2 separate regions of the Homo sapiens genome follow, and region 1 is linked to region 2. Evidence: fine-mapped expression QTL. Tissue or cell type: tibial nerve. Region 2 holds a variant in brackets; the other region holds the start of a gene. All regions are shown on one strand. Distances are from middle to middle.

Region 1 (2,763 bases), 68 kb after region 2:
AGTCCAGATTCTACTTGTGCACTTCAGCATCCCAGGTTTCCTAGAGTTGCTACTTCCAACTCGGTACCCTGTCCCACCGTGAAGCAATGCTTTATACTAACAAAAGAGAACAGATCTGAGCACAACAGGAATAATGAGAAATAGGAAGAAACTGGCCCATAAGCAAATGGAACACCAGAAATCAATACTGTTCTATGTGCCTGGAATTTGTAAAGAAAATGATCCTCTATCCTTGAATTCATAAATTCGATTTAAAATATTCATTTATGTTCGATTAATGTAAATAAGGATTTGTTATGTACTGCATTCCTGGTTGTCAGCTATTTTTTTCTCAACAAAGAAAAATTCATTTTAACTTAAGATCACTTGGAAAATGTCCTAAATAAGCACTCCAAAACCCTCTATTACAAATATATGTGGAAACTAACTTTAGAATATATTTCTTAAAATGAATGATTCATCGGATATAGTCCAAATACTATTAGCTAATCAAATTGTGAAATTCTAATTAAATGGCTACTTAAGTTTAATCTATTTAAAAATCACAGGCAGGAGGCTAAACACAGAGAAAGGGTTTAGACCATTTGGTTCTAGCTTTTATAAATTGGTTTAAGACTATTAAGCTTACTTTCACTCATTTTATTTTGTAATTTTATAAGTCTCATTTATTTGGCTCTAAATTCTACATCTGGGTATTTAAGGAGCTCGACCTTCCAAACTGTTAATATTAACTTCTTGGAAGCAATCCCTCCCACATTAGCGCTTTTTCTCAATTTGGGTACAATCAAGGGGGAAACAATTGGATATCCAAGGGCTCCTTCTTTTAAATAGCAGCCCAGGAAGACAAAAGTGAGAAAGAAAAAGAGGAGCATCTTTAACCAGCAACCTTGAAAAAAGGCATCCCCAACAGCTGTCGCCAACTCAGCTGGCTCGCTCCCATTTCTCAAAACACCGCCTGGACGCCTTGGTCAAAAAAAGAAAAAGAAAAGAAAAAAAACCAGATTCCCGCTTCCCTGGGACAGGGAGCTCCCTTTTGTAGAAGTAGCTAAAGAAAGCGAGGCGCCCCACGGGATTTCATCTCGTCGTCAAGGCAGCGCCAACCCCAGCCGTCCGGCGCAAGGAAAGCTCCGGCGGGCCCGGAGCCCACGGCGGCCCCAGCCTCCGGCAGAGCAGCCCCGGCAGAGCCCGGAGCCCCGCGGCCGCAGAGTTCCGGCAGCGACCCCGGACGGCCCGGCGGGCGTCCCCCGGACCGCGGCGGAAGGCGGGAAGACGCGGCTCGACTTACAGTGACACCATCCTAGGTGACAGCACCAGTGCAGCTTGAAGCACTTGCCATGGCTGTGCGTGGCACAGATAGACAGCCCGTCGCACGGCTGGAAGTCGGGTCTGCGGGCGGCGCAACTCCGCGCCAGGGCCTGAGCCTCATCTAGTTTCTCGCTCTTCCAACCCCGCTCCGACGCCGGCGAGGCCGCCGCACTCATTTCCTCTCCCTCCGCGCGGAGCCGACACCGGGAGCCCGGGAGAAGCGACGTCTGGGTGGGCAGGAAGCCGAGCCGGCTGCGGACGCGGGAGGGCGCGGCACGGGCCGGGAGTCACGCCAGCACGCGGCGGCGGCGGGAGCGCGGCGGTCCCAGGCTCGAGGAGGAGCCGCCCCGGGCGCTGCGACCGGGTCCGGGCTGGCAGCCTCCCTCCCTCCGGCGCGGCGCGCGCCGCGCCCCACGCGCACACGCACGCGCACAGGCGCGCGCCGGTCGGCCCCGCGCGACGTTCCTCAGCGAGCCCGGCCTTCTCACACACACGCCGCTGGGGAGCTTGGCCGTCGGCGTCCCCGCCGGTCACAGCGAGGTCCTCCTCACATACTCACTCCTTCCTCGGAGAAAGACCCCGACGGAGGGCCGTGGTGAACACACACTCCTCGGCCGCTTTGTACTCACATGCACGCCAGCCTACATATGCACTTCCCCCCGAGTGACACTGGCCACCGAGAACTGACACACGCGTCCACACGCTCCACGGAGGGCTGCGCACACCTGGCCCACGCCCACCCGAACCTCCTAGTGGCCCGGGCCGGGTGCATCGCGTAGCGAGGATCTCACACACACAGCCTGTCCCCACAGGCGTCTCACATCTCCCTCGTACACACCTCCCCGTGTCTGGGCATGGAGCCCCTGGGAGGCGCGCACACGCTCGTGCACACGCGCGCACTCCCCCCACCCAGGGCGGGCCTCCTGCCCCAGCGCGGCCACAGGGCGCGTCAGGGGCCAGCACCGCCAACCCCTGCCCGCCTCGCCCCAAACCCCAGGCCAGTGCGCCCGGGCCTTCCCGCGCCCGCCCCAACCTTCGCCGGGACCGCAGCCCCTCCCCCTTCTCCTCCCACCCCCGCCTCCGTTGAGCGGGAAAGCAACAAAGCTGGGTGCATTGATGTGTGTGTGTGTCTGCGTATGTGTAGTTTGGTGTGCATGGGATGTGTGTGTTGCGTGCGTGTGTATGATTATTTGGAGTATGTATGGTGGGTATGCGTGTGTGGTTGTGTGTGGTTAGGTGTGTTCATGGTACATGGTGGGTGGTATGCGTGATGCAAGTGACTGGTGAGGTGTGTGTATACGTGTGTATGTGAAATGAATGTTATAACTGAGGTGGAGTGTGGGTGGTGTGTGTGTGGTTGAGTGTGTGTGGCGTGCAGAATATGTATATGTGTGTAGTTGGACGTGCATGTGCTTGTGCACGTGTTGTGGGGGTGGGTATGCTTAGTAATACAGAGTG
Region 2 (2,763 bases):
CCGGTTCCCAGCTGCTCTCTGGACTGTAATCTTCCTCTGAACTCAGTTCTGCTCCTTCTTCTGTGTCCTCGTCACACGATTCCACATAGTGAGCCCCAATCGCATTGATCCCAGAGTCCTCAGAACTTGAGGGAGAAGAGCAGTGATCTATTTTTGGTGTATTGCTCTCTTTTGAAATTAAGGCATCGTGTGCAGAGACCTCCTCAGGGCTCATTCTGTGGGAATGTGGTGCCGGCTGCTTCTGCACATAACACATCTTCCCATTAATACATTTAACCTGATAGTTGTCAATAAAAAGGTCTGAAATCATACAGTACCTCGGTGAGTCAGGGGGAAGGGGAGGCTGGAAGACAGATGCAAATTTCAAAAAGTGTTCGGTGAGCGAGACTGAGATCTGAATGGTGTTTGTGGGTTCCCGAGGCCTGGCAGGAATCTCAGTGCTTGGAAGCTGTTCCACAGGGGTCATAGGCTGATACATGTATTTGCCTGTGAAGACACAAAAAGACACTTGAAATCTATATTACACAAACTATATTAACATGGCCATAATGGTTTCTGAGGACTCAATGTCTTTAAAAATATTTCAGTAACACCTCAAAAGAAACTAGTAATAAAATCATTCAACATTGGTATAGTCAATGAAAAAGTCAGCATGGTATATAATAATTTTCATCTAAAAGACTCAATCGACTTTCTAAATCTCAATTTATATTTGTGTCTTTCTGATATCTCTGAAGTAGGTGGATAGACACTATAATCCTTATTTTACAGACAACTTTAAGTAATTTACTCATTATACTAGAACAAAAAAGGTCCACAATATAGCATGGTAAAAAATACAAGTTGTACAGCCGGGCGCAGTGGTTCACGCCTGTAATGTGCAGATCACTTTAGGTCAGGAGTTCCAGACTAGCCTGGCCAACGTGGCAAAACCCTGTCTCTACTAAAAACACAAAACGTAGCTGGGCATGGTGGCACACGCCTGTAATCCCAGTTACTCGGGAGGCTGAGGCACGAGAATCCCTTGATCCAGAAGCGGAGGTTGCAGTGAGCCGAGATCGTGCCACTGCACTCCAGCCTGGGCGACAGAGTGAGACCCTGTCTCAAAAAAAAAAACAACCAAGTTGTAAAACAGTATAATGTACTGTAAAATTATAATTCCATGTTTATCTCTAATAATGTTTGTGTTAATGTATATATTTTTCCAGTTTTTAAATGTATGTAAGTTTATCATCAGAATTATGGGAGATTTTCACTTTCCAGGTGTCTATGTTCTAATTATAAGATACATACACCTACATATTTATTTAATAGGTAGTGGCCCACTGGATTGTCCCGGCCACCCTCAATGACTGGGGTAAAGTTTAGGGTGGGAAATGGTTTCTCTGAGGACCAAAGCTCATCAGTGGCCTAATCAGGAGGTGTCTCCCCCGCACCCCTCCCCGACACCAATTCCACTGGCACTAAGCGACCTAAGCCAAGCAGAAGCAAAGGGCAAACACACAGAGGGATGCAGAGGACACCCTGCTGGATGTTTCTAGGAAGCCCACAAGCTTATCTCCAAGCCTTCCTCTCTGCTCTGAGCCCTCAACTGTTTCCCACATAGTTGACATGGAAGTAAAACCTAAATGGATTTGGTCCTCATCCCATTTTTCATTCAACATCTAGCAAAGCCTCCCACACGCTAAGGAAATAGGGCTGAAAATATCCAATCTGTAAGTCTAAAGTGATTTCAAAACAAAAAGCTAAAGCAG[G/A]GATGGGGGCTCCTAAAAATCCCAGAGACAAGTAGCCACAATTGTGGGCATCATTTTGAATTTTTCCTAATTTAGCCAATTTATCGGTTCATGTTGTATCTTCTGCACATTGTTGACAGGGCTTTTAACCTTAGCACTACCTGCATTTTGGACCAGATAATTCTTCATCGTGGTGGGGAGGGGTGCTGTCTATCCTAGGCAGCATCCTCGGCCTCTCCCCACTAGATGCCAGTAGCAGCTCCTTCTCAAATGAGACAAATTCCCCAACGGGTGAAATCACCCTGATTAAGAACCAGTGATTTATGGTATCTTCATGAGCATCTTTTTGCAGGCGAATTACTCATGTGTATGGTACTTGCTCCTGTTTATTTCTTTGTCAGACTGGAAATCCTAGGACAGGAATCACATTTGTAAGGAAAACTAGCTTAGGTTTTATAATGTTAATGATGCCACAGGAGAGTAGCAATTTCAGATTAGAAATGAAGTAGTAAAGAGGCCACAAATCATGCAACATCAGTAATCTCTTAAGATCAATCAAGCCTGCTTATATTTTTTGTTTTTTGACTCCTGCACAAAAAAGCCACTCAGGTACCACAATTTCTTTATAACCAAATTACTCTAAAAAGACCTTCATTTTCATCCTGGGGTACCATATGAAAAAAGTACATTTAAAGTCGTTAAGCCTCTGGGTTCCCAGGGTGCTTCCAAGCCTGGACGTACCTCATGCAAACCCCGCAGTCTGATAAAAACGCATTGAGAAGAACCCAGTCACACCTGCCTGGGGGAACTATGTTTAAAATATACCAGGCGTCTTCATTTCTCCAGCTCTTTAAAAGGTAATTACTACTTGTCAGGCAGAGTTAAAATCAGGTCAGATGTAAGAGGTGGTATGGTAGGACCTCTGCCCCTAAGCACTGTGGACACTATCGGCTGAAGGGCTAAAGAAGGCTGACCTTTAAGCCTCCCTCCAGACCCTCCAGCCCCAGGATTAGAGCAATGTATGGGCACG

The links. PIP is the estimated chance that this variant, and not a neighbour inherited with it, causes the effect.
Region 1: it holds the start of C3orf70, and the variant in region 2 is fine-mapped to the expression of C3orf70 in tibial nerve (GTEx, PIP above 0.99).

The regions. Positions count from the first base shown.
Region 1 is chr3:185,151,343-185,154,105 of GRCh38, forward strand. C3orf70 (chromosome 3 open reading frame 70) reads right to left here and starts at 1,718. Exons shown (of 2, transcript NM_001025266.3): 1 at 1,286-1,718. The coding sequence starts at 1,481. RefSeq lists a silencer at 1,124-1,343 and an enhancer at 1,764-1,903.
Region 2 is chr3:185,083,078-185,085,840 of GRCh38, forward strand. It overlaps C3orf70 (chromosome 3 open reading frame 70), which reads right to left. Exons shown (of 2, transcript NM_001025266.3): 2 at 1-486. Among named protein-coding and RNA genes, the nearest start is that of C3orf70, 69 kb to the right of the region's middle. The variant G/A (reference allele first, on the strand shown) is at 1,755.